Linked DNA regions of Homo sapiens. The protein of the gene in region 1 binds, or shares a complex with, the protein of each later gene. Links are inferred from orthologs where the notes say so. Each region holds a gene or a part of one and is shown in the gene's direction. Other genes may lie near its edges.

Region 1 (7,191 bases):
GATTAACACGGGAGGAATCTAAGGCTCAGAGAGTCTAAGTAACTTTCTTTCTTTCTTTTTTTTGAGACGGAGTTTCGCTCTTTTTGCCCAGGCTGGAGTGCAATGGCATGATCTCAGCTCACCACAACCTCTGCCTCCCGGGTTCAAGCGATTCTCCTGCCTTAGCCTCCCAAGTAGCTGGATTACAGGCATGAGCCTCCACGCCTGGCTAATTTTTTTTGTATTTTTAGAAGAGATGGGGTTTCTCCATGTTAGTCAGGCTGGTCTCGAACTCCTGACCTCAGGTGATCTGCCTGCCTCGGCCTCCCAAAGTGCTAGGATTACAGGCTACAGGTGTGAGCCACCGCCCCCGGCGAGACTTAAGTAACTTTCTGAAGGTCACATGGCTAGTTAAAGATCAGGGCTGAGATTCAACCTGATTCTCTGACTCCACACCTTTAACCCTGTGCACTTAGAAGTAACTGAGACATTGCTCACCATGCAGATAAGGCCTTTCCTGGCTTAGTGCCTCAGCTTCTCTTTGATGACTTTCTCAATTCTCTGTGTCCCAGAGAATACTTTTTCTTTTCTTTCTTTTTTTTTTTTGAGATGGAGTCTCACTCTGTTGCCAGGCTGGAGTGCAGTGGCTAATCCCGGCTCACTGCAACCTCCGCCTCCCAGGTTCAAGCGATTCTCCTGCCTCAGCCTCCTCAGTAGCTGAGATTACAGGCATGTGCCACCACACCCGGCTAACTTTAGTATTTTTAGTAGAGACGGGGTTTCACCATGTTGGCCAGGATGGTCTTGATCTCTTGACCTTGTGATCCACCTGCCTTGGCCTCCCAAAGTGCTGGGATTACAGGTGTGAGCTACCACGCCCGGCTTTTGAGAATACTTTTTCAAAAAGAAAGAAACCAATATTGAGTACCTGTTGGGCCCTGTTTTGCTTTCACATCCATTCTTTCACTATGGGTTTATAATACCACGTCACTCTTCTTAAAATTAAAACTCTCCTTTACCTTGCACTTAGAAGAAAATCCAAAATTTTGACTGTGGCTTAAAAAGGTCCTGCATGCTAGCCCTTACCTACATCCAGGATCTCATCTCTAACTACTCTCCTCCATGCACAGTGCTCCCGGCTGTCCTGGCCTCCTTGTTCTTACTGGAATACATCAGTCTCTTTCCATTTCATGACCTCTGTAGTTGGTTTTCTTGCAGCTTGGAATGGCCTTCCTGAAGTCTTTGCCTGCTTAGCTCCTCCTCAGACTTTAGGTCTTATGTCCCAATAGTCCTGTCTGAAATTTCACCCTTTTCCTCTCATCACCTTCAGTCCTATCACTTCATTTTATTAATTGTACTCTCCATCATCTGAAATTATTATATTTATTTACTTTGTTAGTTACTAGTCTCATTTATTAGGTAAGCTTTTTGAGGATAGACAACCTTGTCCAGCTTGTTACTCTACTGTATTGCTAAGGTTTATGACAGTGTCTGTATAGAGTAGTTCCTTAATGTTTATTTGATACGTGAATGGGTGAATGAATAGCAGTCTCTACCAACAAGAGGAGGAGTGGTTCTCAACGGGGCCTGAGAAATGGCTTTGGAAAAGGGTGCTGGGAGAAGATTAGAACTTAGAGTGAGATCCTGACCTCTCTCCCCTTGCTTTGCAGGCCAGAGGCACCCAATGAGTTCTATGATGGAGACCATGACAATGACAAGGAAAGCGATGTGGAGATTTAAGAGTGGCTTGGGATGCTGTGTCCCAAGGAATTTCTTTTCACCTCTTGGTTGGGCTGGAGGGAAAAGGAGTGGCTCCTAGAGTCCTGGGGGTCACCCCAGGGCTTTTGCTGACTCTGGGAAAGAGTCTGGAGACCACATTTGGTTCTCGAACCATCTACCTGCTTTTCCTCTCTCTCCCAAGGCCTGACAATGGTACCTATTAGGGATGAGATACAGACAAGGATAGCTATCTGGGACATTATTGGCAGTGGGCCCTGGAGGCCAGTCCCTAGCCCCCCTTGCCCCTTATTTCTTCCCTGCTTCCCTCGAACCCAGAGATTTTTGAGGGATGAACGGGTAGACAAGGACTGAGATTGCCTCTGACTTCCTCCTCCCCTGGGTTCTGACTTCTTCCTCCCCTTGCTTCCAGGGAAGATGAAGAGAGAGAGATTTGGAAGGGGCTCTGGCTCCCTAACACCTGAATCCCAGATGATGGGAAGTATGTTTTCAAGTGTGGGGAGGATATGAAAATGTTCTGTTCTCACTTTTGGCTTTATGTCCATTTTACCACTGTTTTTATCCAATAAACTAAGTCGGTATTTTTTGTACCTTTCGCCTTTCTAGGAATGTTAATTCTTGCTAGTTTCCTATTTATGAAAGGAGAGGGAAATGGGCATGATGATGCATGTAATAAAAGCATAGTTAACATTCATTCAGCACTTATCCTACGTTAGGCCCTGTGTATGTATTCTACATTTATTATTGTAAATATAAGAAGTTAATAGAGGATTTTGGTTAAGAGTTAGACAAACCTGGGCAGATTTGAGAGGAGTAGAAGATGACTTCAGGTTTTTGAATCTGGGTGTTTAGAGTAGTGATGCTAGTTGGTGAAGATACACTGAGATAAAACATGTTAAGTGCTTAGCACAGTGCCTGACAGAAGAAGTTGCCCATTATCTGTCTATGTGAAGAACAATGCTAAATACTGTAGTAGCCACAAACATGAACCTTTCTCTAGAAGAGTTTACATTCCAGTCAGTAGTATGATAAATATTGTAGCAGATACAGACTGATACAAGAAAGAGGACTGATAGATGGGTCACTTCCTCCCCTCCATTCTCTGATTCTGTCTGTTCTCAACACTAGCTTAGAAAGTAGCTTTTGGACTTTTTAGACAAAATGTCTGGAAAGCTCAGCACTAAGTCAAGTTTGAAGTATGGGATGGACAGCTCTATGTAACATTCTATCCGATCACCATCAGAAGGTCTGGACCACAAGAGAGATGAATGCCAAATTTAGGAGCCAGCCAGCTTGGCAGAGTCCCTGGTATATCTCAGGCCCTTGACTAGGTACTGGGGCTCTAGAGTAAGTAAGTCACTGACTCTGCCCTTCAGGAACTTATGCTTGAAATCTTGCTAGCTGTGGTCAAGAATATTCAGTCCATATTGTGAAGGCCGACTGGTAGCCACGTAACTGTCACACAAGGGACAGATGTAGCTGGGAGAATGGATGAAATTGCTTAGGGAGAAAGTCATGCTAGAAGAGCAAAGAATATACTCTTGGAGAATACTCATTCTTTTCACTCATGTTTGGTTTATGTCAGTGGGGAATCCTGGTTAAACATAGGGTTTGGCAGCAAATCAGACTAAGCTGGGTTTAAATTTTATATCAATTATGCGTTCTTGGGCAAGTCACTTCAACTCTCAAAAGTCCAAATTTACTATTTATAAAATGGTGAGGCTAGCAGAATCTATCACATGGGACTGTGGGGACTTAGAAAAATACATGTAGAGTGTTTGCCTAGTGCCTAGCAGAGAGCAAAGGGCATGGTTAAGTGGTAACTGTTATTGCTGTTTAGGCACATGTTGGCAATAATTAGTTTGTCCTGATTAGAAACAATTAGATGGTACCTAACCTGGAATTCGAACTAGGAAATTAAACTCCAGAGCGAGTCTGGTTTAGTCTAGTGCTTGCCCTGGACCGAGCTCTGTTCTTGCTACCTTGCTTTCAAAACATGGTGGCTATCACTATAATTTTTTTCATGTGTTCCATGGGTATTGCACACATTGAAAACTGCATTCTCTTGGAAAACCTGTCACTAATTTTCTGCCAGGATAATGGTCTCACGCGATTTTTGGTCTGGGATGTGAGAGGGTCCAGGCTGTCAGGCTGTACAGCCACGTGGGCGCTGCGTGGGAGCCAGAGGCCTGCGCTGCTCCAACCGCCAGGGGGCGGTGCTCTCCGCCGCGGCCGCGGAGAGCTGCACCGCCCACTCACCACCCCCCCCCACGTGGGTCCGAATGGTTAGGTCCGCTGGGCAGGTAGCGCGCTTCCGCGGCTTCCCTCCGCCCCTCTCCCTTCCCCCATTGGTAGGGGCTGCGGGTCCGGGCGGAAGTGGGGCAGGCGGGCGGGAGCGAGGCGTCGTCGTTGTATATTCATGAGGCGCGCGCAGCCCGGCATGCTAATGAGGCGGGGCGCGGCGGCTGGCTAAAGAGCGACTGGGCGGCGGCGGGCGCGGAGCTGCCAGGCGGGAGCGGCGTAGGCGCGGGGTCGCCGGCCAGCGTGAACCGGGACATGGAGCCGCCCGGCGGGAGCCTGGGGCCCGGCCGCGGGACCCGGGACAAGAAGAAGGGCCGGAGCCCAGATGAGCTGCCCTCGGCGGGCGGCGACGGCGGCAAATCTAAGAAATTTGTGAGTGTCCCTCCCATCCCGCTCCTGCCTGGCCCCGTAACCGCCCTCTGGACCCCTGCAGCCGGCCCCTGGGGCGCCTGCCCGGCTTTGGGGAGCCGCCCCCGCGCCTTCCTTCCTCGTTTCGCTCGGTCCGCAGCTCTGCAGCCCGACATCCTCTCCCTTCGGGACCTCGGGAAGCCCCGGAATCCCACCCGGCTCTTGCCCCGGCCACCTCGGGGCTTCCCTCGTTCCCCAGCCCTTACATTCTGCCCTCCCGCCCGCATATCCCCGGCCGGCTCTCAGCCCCGTCTCTCCCCTCTCAGCCTCACTTCCTTTCTTCTTCCTCCAGTACCCGAACACGCCTCCTCTTTTTTGGTCCCCTCTTCTGGGTCCATTTTCTCTTCTTAACCTTACACCTTTTTTGGTATTCTCGTATTTCCTTCTCCTAAAGGTCACTTCCTTCTCCATGATTCATCCTTTTTACCTGCTAACTTTCCTCCCGCCCAGTCCCCCGTGGGCCCTCCGCCCGGTGTCACTTGATAATCCTTCCCCTGAGGAATGTTACCTGACTTGAGCCCTACCCCCAACTCCTTCTTTGGACGTTTGTCCTTGCGATTACAGGAATGGGCTCCTGCCCAGGTCCTATGGTCACTGGGGCATGACGTTTATTTGTTTACCAGTATTCCTCTCTCCAGAGAACCTCTCTCTTTGCCCTGTTGCTTATCACTTTTCAGAGGATTAGAACTCTCATGATTGTGCCCTTCTTGACCTAGGATGGTGATAAACCTCTCCTGTGGGAAGAAAGTTGGACTGCGAGTTCAAGAAGTTTGTAATTGAATTGTTTTTTATACATTTCCCATGATAACCGTCTCCTCTACTCCTTTTCTACTGCCTCTTGTGCCCCAAGGCGACTATCGGCTTCCCTTTGCGTGCCTGTAGAAGAGTAAGCTTTCCTCAAGTGCCAGTTACTTTCAATCCGAGTGAAGGAATAGTGATATACATGTAACCCTATCATATTTCATTACCTTTTGCCCACACCAACGCCTCTCTCCAGGGAGCCGTTTGGTTGCTTTTTTGCTATAAAAGCTTTGTAAGATACGGGGCACTGTCCAGGAGAGGAAAAGTCTTGGATATTGATGATCATTATAATAGCTAGTTATAACTGTAGCTCTTTTGTCTTCTCTTCCAGGTATTTATGCCCTTACACTAGTGTATCTTTCTACTAAACAAATGGCTTGTAACTCTTAGTCCCACCTCCCAACATTTTGACCCAGCTCCACAAATTTGGGAAGAAAACTGATAAAGCGATGGAAACAGGAAGAAAATGTTGTTTTATGACCTAGAGGGTTGAGATGTTAACCCTGGAGGGTTAGATGTTTAATTCTAAATAGAATTAAAATAGTGACTCATCTCTTCCTATTTCTAGCAAGACCAAGTGCTCCTGGACTGCCCTTTCCAGTGATATCTGAGATGTCAGTAACCATCTGTTTTTATCTGGTGAACATCTTTTTTTCCCCCCCTAGAAATATAAGGTTAAGGGTATTGACACCCCCTCCTTCTTTGGTGACTAAAGCAGCATTTTTGTATGTTTCTTTAGGATAAGAATTGACCCCTCCCCCCCGTTAGCTTTCCTTCCAAAACTTAAGTTCTAGGGCTCATATTCCTTCTATTTCTGTATCTTTTTGTTTTGATTTTATTTCCATGAGTACTGTTTGACCTTCCTCACCCAAATTCCAGCTATTGCTGCTGACTTGTGGTGACCTCAGTGACTTGTTTTCATGTCTTGAGTAGAATTTTATATGTACTCTATTTTATCTAACAATTATTTCACGAACTTGTGAAGTCTACTATGTGTGTGGTACTGTAAGGTGAGAAACCTGAGGAAGCTCAACCCCTTTTCACCTGTCTTTTGGAATGTCCATGAAGTCTTCTATATGTTTAATGGATTTGGCTCAGGGTTGTAGGTATTTGCTTTAGAGAGGATGGAGCTGAACCAAGTTCTCTTTTCTTTCTGCGGTGTTAGTCTTAACCCTTAATCTGCTGAATTTTTAAAACTAAATAGCTCAGGTAATGAGGAAAATTGCATTAGTAGCTACGGAATTGGAAGGTTTCTAGGAAAGTAGTGCTGCTTAACCCTTTTATTGCCAAATGTAACCTATCTCAAGGCATCAGAATATTCTTTCTTCCTCTTGCTCCTTTTATGAGAACTCTGTGGAAATGAGAGATGAGGAGGAGCATTGCAATCCACTTCTCTTTGTGTCTGTGTATGTATACGTGGGTGGGTGGAGTGGGCGAGATTGCTGGTGTGCTTTTGATACCCGTGGCTTAGTTTTCTTGAACTATAGGCTAAAACTGAACTCAAAGGTCTTTCGCCGCCTCCACCTTTTCTAGAGTATGTGTCCTCTGGAACTCCATTAAGAATGTACTGTATAAAACTGCACTGGTTTGGACTAAGTGTGCCCGAAGGTTGTTTGCATTTGAGGGTTTATAATTCCTTTAGCTGCTACATACCTTTCCTGGCTTATGCAGGTTCTAAATACGGATTAACTGGTGAGAACACAGAGCTCACAAATTGTCTGAGATCTGCTCTTACCCTCTGAGGCATCTTGTGTGGAAAGGAGATGGACCCTCAGTTTAAAAGTGGTTGGGCATCATCTTTTAAAAACACATGATTGTTAGACGTGCTGACAGTGAGTGGCTGAAGCCAGGCTGCCTGGTATTACCCCTTGGTTCTTCATGAGTCTGTCTTCTCCTGGGCCATGAGCATACCCCTTCTCCGGCATTATTCCATTTCCTTTCACAAGTCCTTAAGATGAAGGAAAA
Region 2 (7,030 bases), on another chromosome or scaffold:
TGAGTTCTTTTACCACTGAATGGTGTTGGCACCCTTATCAAAAATTATTTGACCATATATGTGAGTGTTTATTTCTGGGTTCCCTTTGCAGTCAGCCCTGTCCCTTGACCTGGTTCCAGGCAACCACTGATCTGCTTTCTTTGTTTCTACTGTTTTGCTTTTCTAGGGTTTCATATAAATGGAACCATACAATATGTAGTCTTTTGTGTGACTATTTTTACATAGCATAATGTTTGTGAGAGTTGTCCATGTTGTGTGTATTGGTAGTTGTTTCTTTTGATTGCCGAGTGTTATTCTGTTCTATGAATATATCACAGTTTTGTTTATCCATTAACAAGTTGATGGATGTTTGGGTTCCAGTTTTAATACTGGTGCTATGAATTGCTTCCACGTTTTAGCTATTTTGAATAATGTTGCTATCAACATGGGTATACAGATACCTTGTTGACACCCTGCTTTCAGTTCTTTTGGGGTATATACCCAGAAGTGGAATTGTTGGATCATGTTTTTAATTTTTTTGAGGAACCTCCGTATTGTTTTCCACAGTGGCTGTCCCATTTTATATTCCTACCAACAGTACGTGGGGTTTGATATAGTCACATTCTTCTGTTCGACACTTATTTCCTGTTTTTTTTTTTTTTTTTTTTTTTTTAATTGTAGCCATCCTAATTAGTGTGAGGTGGTATCTAATTGTGGTTTTGATTTGTATTTCCTTAATGATTAGTGATGTTGAGCATCTTATGGCCATTTATATATCTTTGGAGAAAGGTCTGTTTAATCAAGTTCTTTGCCCATTTTTGAATTGGGATTTTTTTTTTGGGGTAAGTTTTAGGAGTTCTTTGTAGATTCCGGGTATTAATCTCTTATCACATACACGATTTGCATATATTTTTTCCTATTTTGTGGGTTGCGTTTTTATTCTGTTGATACTATTTTCTGATGTATAAAATTTTCACAGCTTCATGAAGTTTGTCTATTTTTTGGTGGTTTGGTGTGATATCCAAACAAATTATTGCCAAGTCCACCTGAATCTTTTGCCCTATGTTTTCTGGGAGTTTTAAAGTTTTAGGTCTAACATTTAGACCTTTTATCCATTTTGAGTTAATTTTAGTATATAGTATTAGGTAAGGTTTCATCTTTGTCTTTTGCTTGTGAATATGTCATTTTCTCAGCACCATTTATTGAAGAGTCCTTTTACCACTGAATGGTCTTGGCACCCTTATCAAAAATTATTTGAGCTAGGCTAGGCACGGTGGCTCACACCTGTAATCTTAGCACTTTGGGAGGCTGAGGTGGGCAGATCACCTGAGGTCAGAAGTTTAAGACCAGCCTGGCCAACATGGTGAAACCCTGTGTCTACTAAAAATACAAAAATTAGCCTGGTGCGGTGGTGTGTGCCTATAGTCCCAGCTACTCAGAAGGTGGAGGCAGGAGAGTCTCTTGAACTGGGGAGGTGGAGGTTGCAGTGAGCCGAGATTGTGCCACTGCACTCCAGCCTGGGTGATAGAGTGAGACTCTGTCTAAAAAAAAAAAAAAAAAAGAAAAATCATTTGCCCACATATGTAAGGGTTTATTTCTGGGTTCTCTAGTCTATTCCATTGTCTTATATATCTCCCTATGCCAATACCGCACTGTTTTGATTATTGTAGCCTTGTAGTAAGTTTTGAAATCAGGAAATGGGAGTGCTTCAGCTTTATTCTTTTTCAAGATTATTTTGTCTATTGTCCCTTGTTTCAAGATTACTATCCCTTGTTGGGATTTTGATAGGGATTGCATTGAGTCTGTAGGTTGCTTTGGATAATGTTGACATGTCAACAATATTAAGTCTTCCAGTTCATGAATGTGGGATGTGTTTCCATTTATTTATGTCTTCTTTAATTTCTTTCAGCAGTTTTGAATTTTTTTGTTATCCAAGTCTTTTGCCTCTGATTAAGTTAATTCTAAGTATTTTTATTATTTTGAGTATCGATTAATTCTTGCTAAATTTGTTTTCTAGGCTTTATCAGTTTCAGATACCGGTCTTATATACACGCATTAACTAAATATGTGAACCTCTGTTTGTAGTCATGATGGGCAGTGGATTTTGTCATCTGGGTTTCAGTGAGGTTTTTCTTTCCTTAGATGATTTCACTGTGATTGTTTCTTTACCATATCTGAGATGGAGTCTCACTCTGTCACCCAGACTGGAGTACAGTGATGCCATCTCGGCTCACTGCAACCTCCGCCTTCTGGGTTCACGTGATTCTTCTGCCTCAGCCTTCCAAGTAGCTGGGATTACAGATGTGCACCACCACACCCGGCTAATTTTTATATTTTTAGTAGAGATGAGGCTTCATCATGTTGGCCAGGCTGGTCTTGAACTCCTGACCTCAGGTGATCCGCCTGTCTCGGCCTCCCAAAGTGCTGGGATTACAAGGATTGATTTTTAACCATTTCTGTAGCAAGAGTTTATTATTACATTTATTATTGGGTTTCTAATGGACACAAAGATTGAACACCACAAACTGGTAATAAAAGCAAATAACATAATAGTAAATTCATTGCTGTTCTGAGTGCTTGAAGTTTGTAGAATTAGCTGATTGAGAATATTGCCCACATATTATATTACAAAGCCATACATTTTATTAGATAAGTAAGTTGCTTTTTGAGTAATGACCAGCATGCTTTTAACACTTTGAGGACACCAAGATTCAGTTGCTGAATTCTCTCCAATATTTTTCTTTTTTCTAGGGCAAGAGGATTATGACAGATTACGACCGCTGAGTTATCCACAAACAGATGTATTTCTAGTCTGTTTTTCAGTGGTCTCTCCATCTTCATTTGAAAACGTGAAAGAAAAGGTAAGCTGATCAGATACTCTTGCCCTAAGAAGATCATCTCAGAATTTCTACTGACCTGTTATAAATAGCATTAGAGGCTTGTTGATTAACAAAGGTGTATTTTAAAATACCTTTTTTTAGTGGGTGCCTGAGATAACTCACCACTGTCCAAAGACTCCTTTCTTGCTTGTTGGGACTCAAATTGATCTCAGAGATGACCCCTCTACTATTGAGAAACTTGCCAAGAACAAACAGAAGCCTATCACTCCAGAGACTGCTGAAAAGCTGGCCCGTGACCTGAAGGCTGTCAAGTATGTGGAGTGTTCTGCACTTACACAGGTAAGAATGGCATGAAACCCCATGTGTATTTATGGTCGAGTCATTTATTAGAGCATTAGGATACAGGAGTTATTTCTAACAGTGATCAGCAGTGCTCAAAGATGCCCAGCAAGAATATGAACAGCTTCATATTGTATGTTCTTTTGTTAGAGGCCTCTGTGTTTTTTGGAGAATATTATTAGTTCCTAAACCCCTTGTGTTGGTAAGCTCTCGTATTGTACTGAATGATTCGTAGTGGTCAGGGTTGTGTTAAAACAAAAACCTTACAGGAAAGGTTCAGATAAGCATAAACTTGCAAGAGACGATGTGAATGATTTTTTTTTTTTCTAAACACTTAAATTTTCATCTGAATATGTCTGATCTTTTCTTGCCAATTCTGACAATTGATACTATACTGTTTCTTGGGCAATTCAACCAGGATAGGGAATTAGTCATAATAATTGAGACTTTAATGTCAAAGAAGGCAGCCATGGCTATTTCTGCCACAGTTCTCAAGCGTGCTTTATATAGTGTCCCTATTCCTATATTTTTGGAAGTATTCCTTCCTCATGCATTCCGGCCGTTTTTGAGTGATTTAATTGGAACTCCTTTTGTAGTTTGATGGGAAACTCAGATTTTGAAGATAGGGAGCAATGTTAGGGTATTTGGAATGGGACTTGTAACTGATGTGTATGGTTTAAACTTTTTCACCTTCATGATATCGCTGATTCCGTCCTTTGAGTACTGTTCTGGGGGCAAAGGAAAAGGTTATGGAAATAATTAGCACAAAAGTTTTATGTTCTACTGGTACTGGTGCTTTGAAGTTTGAACACTGAGCAGACATGCCTAATAGGGCAAGATTGAAGGGTGGAGGTTTCTAATAATTATATTAAACTCATTATATTTATGCTTATGTTTTCAGGTAATTCATTCATTTTTATTGTGTTTCTAAAAAACACTATTGGATTCTTAACTACGTGTATACTAGGGTAAATGGCATATATGATTACTTATTACATATGCACTAGGTATTTAGTTTATAGGGCCTAGTGCATAATTTAATAGTAAGTTTAGTACTTGGTTGGATATTTACAGATAAAACTTTTATGCTTAACTGGGATATCCCTCAAAATAACTTCGAGGCCTAGTATCAGATGATTTAAACATAATCTTCTAATCCTCGTTTTTTTGGGCAGTTTAGTGCTATTATAGAAGCAGTTATTTAAAAGTTTAGAAGATTTTACACCTTCTCATGCATAGCAACTGTTTTGAGAGTTTTAAAAAATGCCTGGTGCTTCTCTGTGTGTTTTAGTAACATTCCCAGAAAAGTGTGCCTGTGTGTGTATATTGGGGGAGACAAGGGAAAGTCATGTGTGAAACACTCATGTCCATGTTAGACACTAATTCTGTGTGCTTCTGATGCATACCTCTGTTCTCTAGATATGGGTTGCTTTGAGGGAAGACACATAGGCCCTGTGGATTCACTTTTAGGTTACTAGTGATGCTTTAGATAATTGGATGCTTTTAATGTAAGATTTTTACAGTATCAACAGGTGTATATAGTAAATCCGTTTGTAGAGAGTATGAAGTTTAAAAGGTCTTAGCAGGTACATTTTTCTTACCAGAGTTTGAAGTATGGAGAAGTCAAAAGAGGGGAAGTTAGAAAATGGGGTCTGTGGTTGTGTTTGGGAGCTAGAACTTTGAGGCTTACAGATTCTGTTTGTTGATTCCTCTAAAACTAAAGTCTTAATATAAACAGATGGTGGTCAAGCAAAGATTAGTTTTGTTTCATAGAGCATTTGTTGATCTTCGTCCATGGTAAGCAAGAAAGGAATTCCTTCTTGTTAAGGGATACACTCCAGTTTCTAATAGTCCTCCTCCTCTTTTTTTCCTTATAAAGTATATTTCCCTTTCTGTACTCCTTCCTTCCTTTTATATTTTACTGCCAGAGTTGGTTCCTAGATGTGCAGAAAGAATTGCAGTGGAATTTTAACTTTTATGTGGCATTTCTACTTTGTAAATGATGTAGAAAGAGGAAGGCTTTTTAACTTTTGCTGCTTTTAAAGAATTTACTGCTGTTTCTGATTTATTTTGTGTCTAATGTGACATGTGGGTACCAGTCCTGTGGGATGTCATGGATGGGGGCAGGGTGGAGGTGGGAACACTTGGGGTGGTCTGGGGTTGGCACTTACAATTGGAGCTGTGTTCTGGGACTTTTAGGACATATTTACTTGGGATCAAACTGATCAAACTAAAGAACATGTGAAACAACCTTGGGTGGTAAACTTGTGGCTTCAGATTTAGGTGATTTTAGGTGAGTCTGTAGACCTGGGTCCTAAGTACCACCAATGCTGAGTCACACTGTCATGTTGGAGTTTCTGGCTGAGGTGTAAGTGTATTTCTGTATCTTAATCCCCGTAAGATCTGAGAATATTCTTCGTTTTCACTCCATGCTTTATGCTCTGATACCCATGCAGACATCTTAAAGCACTGGACTGCTTGCTAAAACTCATTCTAGGACCCCATTCTTTGTTTTCTTATGACTTGGGTGGTGGTTACTTGCTCTAATAACATTGCTGAATAACTGAAGTGTATGCTGTTTTTAGAGTCTGTTCTTTAAAGTCCTTCTAGTTGGTACTGTTGCACAATTAACACTTTTTAAATGTCTGAACCTTTCCGTTCTGGGAAACCAGTTTACTCTGAAATCTTGATTAATCACATTCAGATATGTCATTGAACCTAGAAACACATAGCATGCCTGTTAGTCTGCTATTTGTGTCCTTCAGTTATTCAGGGGCTGAATTCACATAAGCCTGAAATTGTAATAGATTTATTTCCAAAATGTGTTAGAAGTCAACATATTGCATTTTAATAAAAATTGCTTTCCTGCTCAGTTAACCTTGCTTGAGGTGAAGTTTTTGGTCAGTTATCTACTCTCCTGGTTATAATGGGCTTAAGATCTAGCATTCTAGCGTTTTTCTTAAGGCACATTGCTTCTGTGAATTCAGCTCATTTAATCCGGACTGCTGTTGTACCTGCTAGTCTTTCTAATCCTCTAACCTGGCTGCTATTCTCTCTCCTCCCCTCTGTCTTGTAGAGAGGTCTGAAGAATGTGTTTGATGAGGCTATCCTAGCTGCCCTCGAGCCTCCGGAAACTCAACCCAAAAGGAAGTGCTGTATATTCTAAACTGTTTTCTCCTTCCCTTCTTTGCTGCTGCTTCCTGTCCCACTACTGTAGAAAGATCGTTTAAAAACAAAGGAATAAAACCATCCTGTTTGAAAGCCTCTGCGTCTTTTTACTCACCACCTTAGAGCAACCTCTGTATTAGTTTTTGATCAAGAATGCAATATCATATAAATTTTTTGTGATCAGTAGTCAAGTTGGACTTGTTTTAACGTTCTGCTGCTTGAGTTGCCTGATGCTCAGAGCTTTTTGGTTTGGATTACTATTGCAAAAGGGAACTTGGTCTGGCTTTAAGAATGTCCTCTTGGAGAAAATAACAAGAGTTTTAACACTTCTAGATCTTAGTTCTAGATGGAGAAAGTAACACAAACATCATTTTACTCTTATGATCAATTGTTAATTGTAATTGCATGACAAACCTTATGGAAAAGGGGTGACCTAGTAGAGTGTAATGGGGAAGGGAGGATTCTTTTCTGGTTTTCCTTTGTGCGGTGAAACTTTGTGTTGCTGTTGCTTTGGCTGTCTGTGCTGTAGTGGAGTATTTGTCAGTCTGGGGTGGGGAAGATATTGATGTATCTGCTACTGCTTTATGAGTTCATTTGTTACATTATCTTTTAAGAATAACATCCATTTAAACAGTTGACTTACAGTTTGTTAATGCTGAGATGTAAAGCTGCCACCTTTATATTTTCCTGCTTCTGATTTTATT
Region 3 (3,522 bases), on another chromosome or scaffold:
ATTAACATCCGTTCATTTTTCAGTTAGGAACTTTGCTGGGGAAAAGATAATTAGATGAGGATTTTGGAGTAAGTTGTCCATTCACTGAAATATTTTCAAAGATTGTGTCTGAGACTTAGATTTGAAAAGTAGGAAATTACATTTAGTTTGTATACTTGGTCCAGAAATTCAGGTGTCTCCAGACTGTTGTCAGCATTATAGAAACTCTTAATTGCACTAAAGAAGTCTCCCTACTTTTTCAAAATAAACTTTTGAAATTGAGTTTTATTATGACATCTAATTGATTTACAAATACATTTTAATGTGTTAACGCATACGAATATTTTGTAAATAGAGAGTGCTTCTGTAGCCTCACATAGCTGACTTGGCACATCTAATTTTAATAACAGCTCTACCATGTGAGGGGAGTTGAAGCTGCTGTGAGTTATAATTAATGCTATGGCTCTACCAGCTCCCTGTGATTATCCTAAAAGTTACTCGTATTCTGGTGTGAGTTGATGTTTATAAGGATTTATAAGAAAATTAGATGACTTTGAAATAGTGACAAATCTCTTTAAACCTTAGCTGCACTATACGCTGAAAAGAAGCGTCAAACACAAGACAAAAAACCAGAATATTTTATACGATACAGCACTACTGACATCTAGTGGTAGTGAATATAAAATTTGACATATACATATATTTTGGGTTATACACCTTTGAATTGCATCATAGAAGAGCAATTAGAAATCGTAAACCTATTTTTTTAGACGCAATTAAAAACAAGGCTACTACGGTGAAGTTATCAGTAAGCAAACACCTTAAATAATTTAATTTGGCCTTTTCTGAATGATACTGAGTATGCTACTTAAAATTTGATCTTCATTTTCCTCTGGAAATAATAGATACATTTAGCCTCACTGGTAAAACTTAATAGTTTAAACTTATCAAGCATGTTAAAATTTGGGGAGAGTTTGTAAGTAAGTAACTCCCCAGGTTTATTAAGTTTATATTTTGGGGGCAAGTAATAACATGTACTTGACATCAGCCAGAATTTTTTTGCCCTAAAATAGAAGACAAATGGTCACTTTTTTTTTTTTCTGTAGCTAGTGTAAAGATAGTTGTATAGAACTTTTGCTTGCATTGATTGGCTTCCAAGATGCAGTCAAGTTTACTATTTTCTGTTTAGTATATTACTAGTTTGAAAGTTCTTTTTGGAAACCTACTTGACTTCAGTGCTTGGCAGTTCATGGAAAACTAACTTAATGTTAACTTATTAATCCGGGTTCTGTCTGCTAAAACTTATGTGACTTTCTTGATTAACACTTCTTTTGAAACACTTTTCTTCTTTCTCTTTCAGTCTTGGTCTTTGTAATGGGAAAAGAAGGGGTCCATGGAGGCGGATTGAATAAGAAGGCATACTCAATGGCAAAATACTTGAGAGACTCTGGGTTCTAGCTGCTAGGCAGACTGTTAAGTATTAGGGGAAAATTGCTCTTAAACTTTCCTAGCTATAAGCTTAAGTCTTAATTCTGGAAATTTTATTAGCAATGCAGGGTGATGGGGTATGAACCTGTGTCTCCTTTGTATCCCTCTGTTGGTGGGGAAAGGTGTCTTTCTTTCTGCCCTCCCCCCCCAAAATAATTCTGTTCACTTTTGTTTTGTTTCCTTGTGTACTCCAGCATTGGTTATAGTCATGGGAAAGGAAGGTGTCCACGGAGGCACACTTAACAAGAAAGCATATGAACTCGCTTTATACCTGAGGAGGTCTGATGTGTAAGCAGCCTCTCCCCATCTACCTAGCAACTGTCTTCATCAACAACCCTAATTATGGTCACAATGCTACCAAACTGTAGATGGTAGCTAATTTTTCTTTACCTATTTTCTAATGTCATGATTCCTGTTTGCCCAATGGATCATTTGTATGTTAACCACTGTATGTAACCAACCCTTATCTGGCAACATAATTGCAGCACAATAATGATTTGCATGATACCTTGAAATTGGGGGGAGGGGGCATGCCAAGTTGGGCATCACTTTGTCTTAGCAATTAATGGGATATTGATTACTAAAATAAGTTAATATTAAGCAAGGTGCCGGTTGTACAATCTCTGATCAGTGTCTTTTCAGCACTTTGAGCATTTACTTGGCTCATTTAGTCTTCCTTTTGTAGCGCATGGTTGGGAGGAAAAAGTGCATGCATCATTCCTTCACTCTTCTCTTTTTCCCGCCCCCCCTCCCTTCGCACATAGGCATTTGGTTTGCTTCCATCTTTTTTTATGCAGTGCCTGTTTTTTTTTAACCAATTAAAATCCCTTTTGTTGATGAGCTATTGAGAGCTGCAGTAGTTTGCTTTTAGTATTGTTGTTGCACTTGAGCAGAGACAAACCTTTATTCATAGTGTCTACAGGACATATGAAGAGTGCAATGGCAAAACAAGAGCAAAAAGCACTTCCTCCCATGACCTTACAGTAACCATACTGATTGAATCCCCAGGGACATTCCATCATTGCAATAGCTCAGATTTTTCTTCCTTTTTCTTTGCACACCAGCTCTACTCTTTAGTAAAATTGTAAAAGGCTGCCATTATGGACATTAGGTATCCCAACATAACCATCTGGAGTGTGTCCAGTTTGTTCTTCATAGGACCAATTTTTATTTGCAGCTTGAGTTTTTATATGAAGTTGCATTATTGTGGACTTGGCTGTCTTGTGATGAATTTTTTTCATATGTATTCTGTGCCATACTATTGTTAAAATGAACTGTTGCTATTGTGAGATGGATTTTAACTGACCTATTAAGGGTTTCTTTCGAATGGCACTACTTTAGGGACATTCTAGTATTTGCTTCTATTGTTTGGGCCTTGTGGATAATGTACAGATTTAAAAACAAATCTTGTTGCTGATTTGTCCATTTCTTTCCCTGCACTTTGTTACATCTGGGATACAGTCTAACTCATCTGATTTAATATGCATTTAAAAAAATGCCATAACTATTAAACACCTTGTTTACAGACAGATGAAATAAATTTATTCCAACCAAATACTCTAGGCTCCTGTTGTTTATATACATTGTTTATATAAACTGTTAAAAGTTGATTTTTGACAAAGTGGGAATACACAGAATAGGCCAAAGTCTGCTGCAAGCATAAAACTTCAGCAATATTAGGTGATGGCCTACTTCAAGTAATATTACAGATAAAATTAGTGCCTGGGAATTTCTTTTTAATGGACTCTGATCTGTTACACATAGCTTTTAGTCATTTCAGGCTCATCTTCAGGAGTATGTGAGAAGCAACTGACTTATCTGCTAGAAAATAAGTATTTTCCTCTTCTTGCTGGTTTCTAGATGTGAAATCTAATAGTAAAGGGAGTACCAAGAAGGGTTTCTGCACTATTGTGGATTTTTCTGTATTGAAATGTCATATGACTTTAGATTTGGAAGCTGTGTTGGCAGGCTGAAGTCAGCCAGCTGGGGCCCTCCCACATAAGAGCAGAAGACATTCCTTAGGCAGCATATAAGATAATTGGGATGCTTTTGCAT
Region 4 (7,897 bases), on another chromosome or scaffold:
GCCGCTGGTGGCAGTCTCTCCTGCGCCACCCTGGACTCTGCGGGGTGTCCGACTAGGCTTCGGCCGTCCTCCCCGGACTGTGCGCTCGGCCTCACTCCGCCGCTCTCCTTGCTTCTCTGCGTCTCGGGGTCTCTGACACTCGGGGTTTCTGCGCCCCGCCCCCGCCCCGCAGACGTGTCCCGGGCGGTTGAGCTCCTCGAGCGGCTCCAGCGCAGCGGGGAGCTGCCGCCGCAGAAGCTGCAGGCCCTCCAGCGAGTTCTGCAGAGCCGCTTCTGCTCCGCTATCCGAGAGGTGAGGGGCGCGCGGCGCAGGGGCGCGAGCTGGTGGCCGTCGTCCTCCTCCTCCTCCTCCTGCTTGTCCCGAGCCCGGAGACTACGCCTCCCGGCAGCTCCCGAGGCGGCCCGCCTTGGGGTGCCAACGCTTCAGCTCAGGGGTTCTTCGGGAGTTGTAGTTTTCTCGGCCTTCTGTTGCGGGGGCGGGGCGGATCCTTGCGTGGTAGCGGGAGAGGGTCTAGAGGCCTGAACTCCTGCGTCTAGGGCTGGAGGAGCTGGCGACTCCCTGATGCCGCTGCCTCCTCACCCAGGTGTATGAGCAGCTTTATGACACGCTGGACATCACCGGCAGCGCCGAGATCCGAGCCCATGCCACAGCCAAGGTGGGCCCCGCACCCCATTGCTCCTGGTGTCTATTTAACTGCCTAGTCGAACTCAATATCTCCTTCATGCCAGTCATTTCTGTTTCCTCCCTCATGATTTTTGCTAAATCTATGTGCCACCTTACTATTAGTAAATAATCGCACATTTTTAACTTAAATGTCATACTAAGGCATCTTTAGCAACTGCAAATGGAAACAGTATGGCATGGTTGGTAGAAGATAACCTTCAACATCTGTACAGTGCAAACCAGGAAACTCATGGCGCTCTGACCTCTCACTGCACAATAGTTAGATGCTGCTACCTCTTGCTGCTGTCCGGAGGCTCAGATCTCCCTCCAGGCCTGGCTTTCCTCTGTTTAAAAGTAAGATTGAGGCCAGGCACGGTGGCTCACGCCTGTAATCCCAACACTTTGGGAGGCCGAGGCAGGTGGATCAGTTGAGGTCAGGAGTTCGAGACCAGCCTGGCCAACATGGTGAAACCCCGTCTCCACAGAAATACAAAAAAAAAAAAAAAGAAAGAAAAAGCCGAGCGTGGTGGCGAGTGCCTGTAATCCCAGCTGGATTACAACTCCGGAGGCTGAGACAGGAGAATCGCTTGAACCCAGGAGGCCGAGGTTGCAGTGAGCCGAGATCATGCCATTGCACTCCAGCCTGGGCAACAGAGTGAGACTTCATCTCAAAAAAAAAAAAAAAGTAAGATTGGCAAGTATGGGGTATTCAAGACACACACCAAATGGACACTTTCTCTTGCAAGTGAACAGAAAGAGACGCACAGTCATTACAGGGGGATCGTGCATTGTGCCATGACAAGTGTCCCATGCTTGGGGATAGTAACCCAGGCTAAATCGCTGTCCTCGGTCCACATCCCCCACCCCAGCTTTCATGCCTACCTGGAAGGGGCCCTCATCTTCAGTCGCTTTCTCTCTCCCAGGCCACAGTGGCTGCCTTCACAGCCAGCGAGGGCCACGCACATCCCAGGGTAGTGGAGCTACCCAAGACGGATGAGGGCCTAGGCTTCAACATCATGGGTGGCAAAGAGCAAAACTCGCCCATCTACATCTCCCGGGTCATCCCAGGGGGTGTGGCTGACCGCCATGGAGGCCTCAAGCGTGGGGATCAACTGTTGTCGGTGAACGGTGTGGTGAGTGGAGGGCTGAGGCAGGACTGGGGGACACAGTCTGTCTAACGTAGCATAGCCCCTGCTTTTGACATTCACTCAACACACACTGAGTGTTGTCTGTATGGCTAGCCCTGTGCTGGGCAATGTTACAGACTCTGAGAGATGTTGGCCTCAGCTCCCTACACTCAACCTTCTCTCTCTGGGGAGGGCAGTAGGCCCCGGCTGAAATAGTCCTAATCCAGAGACATAATAATGAGGAAGTGCAAAGTATTGTGACAGCCCAGATGTGGCACCAGGCCAGCATAGATACAGGAAGGTTTTGCAGAGTAAGGAACATTTGGGTTGGGTGTTAAAGGATGAGTAGGAGTTCTCCAGGCAAACAAGGTACAGGGTGTTCCTGCTGAGGGTACTGTAGATAAGGATACTGACTTGGCATACCTCTGAGCTGAAAAGAAAGGGCTTAGTTCTGATGGAGGTCTGGGGCATGCAGGTAATTAAAATCACTGTGGTTAGGCTGGGTGCGGTGGCTCACACCTGTAATCCCAGCACTTTGGGAGGCTGAGGCACGTGGATCACTTGAGGTCAGGAGTTCAAGACCAGCCTGGCCAACATGGTGAAATCCCATCTCTACTAAAAATACAAAAATTAGCCAGGTGTGGTGGCAGGCACCTGTAATCCCAGCTACTTGGGAGGGTGAGGCAGGAGAATCGCTTGAACCTGGGAGGCAGAGGTTGCAGTGAGCTGAGATAGCACCACTGCACTCCAGCGTGGGTGACAGAGTGAGACTCCCTCTCAAAAAAAAAAAAAAAAAACAAAACTCACTGTGGTTAGAGTTGAGGGAAGCATAACTGGAGAGATGGCTGGGGTCAGCCATACAGGACCTGAGTGCCAGCCTGAGAAGCTGGGACTTTGTCCCATGGGTGCTGGGGAGCTATGGGAGGGGTGAGCCAGGGATAAACTCAGCTTGCAGGTGCAGAAGGACCACTCTGGGACTCTATGGGAGATGAACTGAGGGGAGAGATTAGAAGCCAGGCCAGGGAGGAGGCTGGGGTAAGAGTCCAGAGAAAAGAGGACAAGGCCTGAGCTGGCCCAGGGCTGTGGGGACAAAAAAGAGGGAGTCAAGGCGGGCGGACATTAGTGGGCTGTGGGCAGGGAGGCCACAAAGATGGGTCTGGACGTTTGGCCAGGGACTGAGGGAACACGGGGCTGTCCCTGACATGGGAATCCTGGGAGGTTTTGGAGGAGGACACTGAACCAGGAGTTAATGACTCCCACGAGGAGGACATGAGGCATTGACATCTCAGGGCTGGCACCAGGCTCACTAGCAGTGGGTCCCATCTCCCAGTGGGGGCTGGACGAGGGCAGCGGGCCCCAGGCTCAGCTGTCTGTGTTGGGCCCTGCAGAGCGTTGAGGGTGAGCAGCATGAGAAGGCGGTGGAGCTGCTGAAGGCGGCCCAGGGCTCGGTGAAGCTGGTTGTCCGTTACACACCGCGAGTGCTGGAGGAGATGGAGGCCCGGTTCGAGAAGATGCGCTCTGCCCGCCGGCGCCAACAGCATCAGAGCTACTCGTGAGCCCCTGGGTCACCACACCCCTGGGGCCTCCACGGGCTCCCTTTAACCCCAGGCTCCCAAACCAGGCCAGTGCTTCCTGGATCTTCCAGCCCTGGCCCCTCCTCTGGGATCCTGACCCTTGACCCTTGGCCCAGGCTCTCACCCCAGGCTAGTTTGGCCAAATCCCCTGGGGAGCCCTTAGCTTCCTTCCATCCCAAGATACGGAACCTACTGTGGCTGGGATCCCTCAGCCCACTTACCTGGGCCCTTGCCTCTGCAACCCCAGTCCTGCCCCTCTTGTCTACCCGGAGCCTCCCTGATCCCGGGTCCCTTGTCCACCCCCCTTGCAGGTCCTTGGAGTCTCGAGGTTGAAACCACAGATCTGGACGTTCACGTGCACTCTCTTCCTGTACAGTATTTATTGTTCCTGGCACTTTATTTAAAGATATTTGACCCTCACTGAGTGTCTGTGTGTCTGTCCTGCATCCCTGGGTTGGTGTCTTGAGATGTGGAGGGAATGCGAGGAGCTGAGGTCAGGCCAAGCCGTTGAGAAGCCTTTTCCAGAGTCTGAGAACAGAGGTTAAGACCTCTCCCTAGGTCTGAAGGCGGAGACAGGCCGGCTTCCAAGAGACTAGTCCGAGGGCGGAGGGCGGAGGCAGGGACCCAGTCTGGGTCTGAGTGCTGGGGCAGAACTGAGGACAACGCTGCCTACCCTTAAGAGCGTCTGAGGGCGAAGGCCAAGTCCCTTCCTCCAGAGTCCTGAAACGCAGCCGGAGCCAGTGGGCGGCCTCTGTGTGGGCGGGGCGGAGCGAACCATTAGCCTCGTCCGCCGGGGGAACCCTGCAGGCCGCACTACTGTCTGCGTGGGAGTCGCGGGTGGGGGTGCCGCGTGCAGTTCCCGAGGCGGGCGCAGGGGTGCAGAATGAGGTGCCCTCGCCCACCGGGCGCTCACTCCACCTTCCAAACACAGCGCGTCTTTCCGGAAGCAGCCCCCGCCTTGAAATCCAACCTTTAGCCTCATCCCGCTGCCCGCCCAGCCCTCGTGTCCCGTGCGGCGCGAGGGCTAGTGCGCGCCACTGCCGGGAGCCGGGGTCGCGACTCGCGTTCCACGCCGCGCGCTACTCGCTCCAGGTGACATCATCCCCCTGCCGGGCTCCGCCTCCCGCCCCAGCCGCCTCACGCCGCGTGCCTATTGGTCGACGCGCCTTATGCCCCGCCTCTCGCTCTCCGCCCGCGCGACCCCTCCCGGCCGGTGTGGAGGCGGGGTCTAGTCGCCGGCCGGCGCCGACGCTCTCTCCCATTGGCCGCTCTTCGCCGTCTGTCAGTCTCCTGTTAAAGGGGCCACGACCGCCCGGGAGCCGTGGGGGGGGAGGGGGAGGGAGGAGGAATTTTTTTGGGGGGAAGGTGGGATTTGGGGGGCGCTGGTGGGCACCCCTGGATCTGGCGGCTGCGGCCTCGCGGGGGGAGGCTGATCGGTGACAGGGGCAGGGGGCTATTTTGGGGGTAGAAGGCAGTGAGAGCGTGAGGGGGAGGGGGGTCCCCAGCGCCCAAGCCGGAGCCAGAGACGCGGAGCCCGCGCGAGCGTCGGAGACAGGGCTCCAGGGCTCCGAAGCGACAGAGCCGGGCCCCGGCCGCTGCCAGGGGCCCCGCCCGGCCCCCCCACTCCACCCCACGTCCCTCCTGCAGCCCAGCTCCGCCCGCAGCCGCCGCGGACCAGGCAGGTAAGAGCCCGGCCCGGCCCTCCTGGCAGCGCCCACCCTGGGGACCCCTTGGCGAGCCTCCCCCGCCTCCCCGAGATCCCGGATTCCCTTCCTCATCCCAGGGGACCCCCGAGCCCAGATTTCACACCCCAACCCCGGGGACTCAGGCGTGCCCCTCCCGGCGCCCAGAGTCCCCGACCGAACCCTAGAATCCCGGGCGCACCGCCGCCTCGCGCCTCCTCCAGGGCCCAGGAGCTTGGATTTCCCGGTCCGGCCCCGGGACCCCTCCTAGAGCCTAGATCCCCCTTCCTGACCCTGTCCTGGGAGCTCCAGACACCCGCCGCGGCGGTGCCAGACTCCCCAGACGCGTCCGCATCGTCCCCGCTTCGCGCACTCCGTCTCCCGTCGCCAGCCTCGGGCTTGCACAGCCGGCTGCGTCCCACGGTCCAGGCAGGCTCGGCGGCCGCCCTGGACACAGGCCCGCTCTGGAGCTGTCCATGGTCAGCGCGCTCGGCAGCCTCGCCTCCCCCCACCTCCTGCCGCCGCCACCAGGGAGGGGGCGCAGGCGGCGCGGGGATCCCCCCGCCGCGCCTTTGACCCGGGAATACCCGGGCCCTCCCCGACCAGGGCGCCCCAGCCTCTGGGTTCTGCCGGCCAGGCTCGTGGCCCCGTCCTCGGCACCCCAGGTTCCTGGGACTCCAGCTGCTCCCTGAGGATCCAGGGCTTCTGAATTTTCCTATTCTGGTCGCCGTGGGGACCATGGCACCCGGGGATGCAGCTCCCACCCCGTTCGGGAAGCCTGTCCGTGTCTACACCTCTGCTGGCCCCAGGTGGTAGCCCTCACCCCGTCAGCACCTAGGAATCCTGTTCCCCAGCGTTTGCTCTGCTTAGAACCCCGCTGTGCCCTGCAGACACACAGACTTAGCCTCCTGGCACCCAGCATCTGCTCCCCGAGGGACTCAGGCGCCATGACTCCTTTCCTTTGGGGGACCCGGAATGTGATTCTCAATGCAGTTCTCTGACTTCTGTTCACACTCCCACTTGGGGACCTAAATGTCTTGGTCCCAGTCTCCTATCCCCTCAGGGACCCAGGAGTTCAGACCCCAGCTTCCGTACTGCCCACCAGCTTTTACTGAGGCTGTCTGCCTCAACCCTCTCTCCAAACAAGACCTCAGGCTCTCACCTTCCAATCCCCCATCATTTACCTCCACAAGGATTCAGGAGTCCAGGCTCCCAGCTCTGTCCACTGCCCTCCCCAGCAGGTATCTAGTTTCTCAGGTCTCACTTTTAGGAACCAGGTCTTCACAGCCTCATCACTCTGCCCCATCAACTTCACATCTCCTGTGGCCCTACCAAACCCCTGTCTCATCCTCATGTCACCCCAGGTGGCGGGCTTCAGGACTCTCTACTCTTTCCCCTAAGATGCAGCTTGTTGAGATGTTTCTAGCACTCCATTGCCCCCTGAGGCTCAGATGAGTTCCCCTTCTCCAAGTACACTCTCCCAGGCCAATGAGCCGAACACACATCACCTCCTCCAGATGTATTCTGTGGCCTGGGCTCATAAGGAGATCTAGAAGCTACCTGCTGCCATACAAATTTCTTTCTTTCTATTTATTTATTTATTTATTTTGAGACAAGGTCTCTGTTGCCCAGGCTGGAGTGCACTGGCACAATCACAGCTCACTGCAGCCTCCACCTCCTAGGCTCAGGTCATCTTCCCACCTTAGCCGCCTGAGTAGCTGGGACCACAAGCACTCACCACCAGGCCTGGCTAATTAAAAAAAAATTTTTTTGGCCAGGCGCGGTGGCTCATGCCGGTAATCCCAGCACTTTGGGAGGCTGAAGCGGGCGGATCACCTGAGGTCAGGATTTTGAGACCAGCCTGGCCAACATGGAGAAACCCTGTCTCTACTAAAAATACAAAATTAGCCAGGCGTGGTGGCACATGCCTGTAATCCCAGCTACTCAGGAGGCTGAGGCAGGAGAGTCGTTTGAACCCCGGAGGCGGAGGTTGCATTGAGCTGAGATCGTGCCACTGCACTCCAGCCTGAACGACAAGAGCGAAACTCTGTCTCAAAAAAAAATTTTATTTATTTATTTATTTATTTATTTTTTGTAGAGATGGGGGTTTCGCCATGTTGCCCAGACTGGTCTGAAACTCCTAGGCTCAAGGGATCCTTCTCTGTTGGCTCCCAAAAGTGCTGGGATTACAGGCATGGCCATCGCGCCTGGCCGGGCCACATTTCTTGTCGCACATGTGCTCTTGCATTGCTCCATGTTCTAGATTCCTTCTAAACACCAGAACACTCCCAGCTGATGTCTGTTCTGTGTTCCATTTTCATTCCAGGCATGGTCTGAGTTCTAGGCCAGATGCCAATTTTTTTTTTTTTTTTTTTGAGACGGAGTTTCACTCTTGTTGCTCAGGCTGGAGTGCAATGCTGCGATCTTGGCTCACCACAACCTCTGCCTCCCGCGTTCAAGCGATTCTCCTGCCTCAGCCTCCTGAGTAGCTGGGATTACAGGCGCCTACCACCATGCCCGGCTAATTTTTTGTATTTTTAGTAGAGATGGGGGTTTCTCCATGTTGGTCAGACTAGTCTCGAGTTCCCGACCTCAGGTGATCACCTGCCTCGGCCTCCCAAAGTGCTGGGATTATAGGCGTGAGCCACTGTGCACAGCCTTTGTTTTTTTCATATATTTAGATAAGACCCCTGAGCCAGATTCTGATCCCACCATATCCTCAGACATGTTCCAAAGTTCTAACAACAAGTCCTTCCTTCTTTGCTAAATGTTCATTTCAAGTGTGTTCCAGGTTTCAGCCACGTTGTTCTAGATTCCATTCTCTTCCCAGGAGCAATCTAACTTCTAAGAT

The links.
Region 2: the proteins of DIAPH1 (region 1) and CDC42 are in contact, whole or in part, in a crystal structure (PDB 3EG5), measured with the Mus musculus proteins. The link is inferred for Homo sapiens from one-to-one orthologs. Residues at the interface, in NP_031884.1 of Mus musculus: Met90, Asp93, Met94, Asn95, Leu96, Lys100, Pro103, Leu104, Lys107, Ile111, Met115, Gln118, Tyr119, Thr122, Ser133, Tyr139, Ser158, Arg160, Val161, Ser162, Leu163, Pro167, Val168, Val171, Arg210, Lys213, Ala214, Asn217, Asn218; in NP_033991.1 of Mus musculus: Val36, Phe37, Gln61, Glu62, Asp63, Tyr64, Asp65, Arg66, Leu67, Pro69, Leu70, Pro73, Glu95, Lys96, Pro99, Glu100, His103, His104.
Region 3: the proteins of DIAPH1 (region 1) and PFN2 are in contact, whole or in part, in a crystal structure (PDB 2V8F), measured with the Mus musculus proteins. The link is inferred for Homo sapiens from one-to-one orthologs. Residues at the interface, in NP_031884.1 of Mus musculus: Ile635, Pro636, Pro637, Pro638, Pro639, Pro640, Leu641; in NP_062283.1 of Mus musculus: Ala2, Gly3, Trp4, Ser6, Tyr7, Asn10, Ala28, Tyr30, Trp32, Arg108, Met131, Tyr134, Leu135, Ser138, Phe140.
Region 4: the proteins of DIAPH1 (region 1) and PPFIA3 are in contact, whole or in part, in a crystal structure (PDB 4UWX), measured with the Mus musculus proteins. The link is inferred for Homo sapiens from one-to-one orthologs. Residues at the interface, in NP_031884.1 of Mus musculus: Lys252, Ser255, Ala256, Ile259, Gln307, Asn310, Ala311, Thr314, Pro315, Ala316, Glu317, Arg322, Gln352, Cys354, Val355, Glu358, Gln359, Glu362; in NP_084017.2 of Mus musculus: Pro719, Arg720, Arg723, Leu724, Arg726, Met727, Ala728, Ala730, Leu731.

Annotation. Positions count from the first base shown.
Region 1 is NC_000005.10:141,615,996-141,623,186, reverse strand, and holds the start of DIAPH1 (protein diaphanous homolog 1), read left to right. Parts: upstream 1-4,186; 5' UTR 4,187-4,272; coding exon 4,273-4,389; intron 4,390-4,890; exon of another isoform or gene 4,891-5,142; coding exon of another isoform or gene 5,143-5,193; intron 5,194-7,191. UniProt on the Homo sapiens protein: Actin nucleation and elongation factor required for the assembly of F-actin structures, such as actin cables and stress fibers. Binds to the barbed end of the actin filament and slows down actin polymerization and depolymerization.
Region 2 is NC_000001.11:22,083,709-22,090,738, forward strand, and holds part of CDC42 (cell division control protein 42 homolog isoform 1 precursor), read left to right. Parts: intron 1-2,730; coding exon 2,731-2,840; intron 2,841-2,960; coding exon 2,961-3,158; intron 3,159-6,234; coding exon of another isoform or gene 6,235-6,324; exon of another isoform or gene 6,325-7,030. UniProt on the Homo sapiens protein: Plasma membrane-associated small GTPase which cycles between an active GTP-bound and an inactive GDP-bound state. In active state binds to a variety of effector proteins to regulate cellular responses. Involved in epithelial cell polarization processes.
Region 3 is NC_000003.12:149,964,404-149,967,925, reverse strand, and holds the end of PFN2 (profilin-2), read left to right. Parts: intron 1-1,339; coding exon 1,340-1,437; 3' UTR 1,438-1,661; coding exon of another isoform or gene 1,662-1,759; 3' UTR 1,760-3,022; downstream 3,023-3,522. UniProt on the Homo sapiens protein: Binds to actin and affects the structure of the cytoskeleton. At high concentrations, profilin prevents the polymerization of actin, whereas it enhances it at low concentrations. By binding to PIP2, it inhibits the formation of IP3 and DG.
Region 4 is NC_000019.10:49,114,677-49,122,573, forward strand, and holds the start of PPFIA3 (liprin-alpha-3), read left to right. Parts: upstream 1-4,867; 5' UTR 4,868-5,046; intron 5,047-7,897. Other genes in the region: LIN7B (protein lin-7 homolog B), read left to right, coding at 173-291, 584-655, 1,587-1,796, 3,179-3,342, 3,676-3,697; putative uncharacterized protein C19orf73, read right to left, coding at 3,957-4,346. UniProt on the Homo sapiens protein: May regulate the disassembly of focal adhesions. May localize receptor-like tyrosine phosphatases type 2A at specific sites on the plasma membrane, possibly regulating their interaction with the extracellular environment and their association with substrates.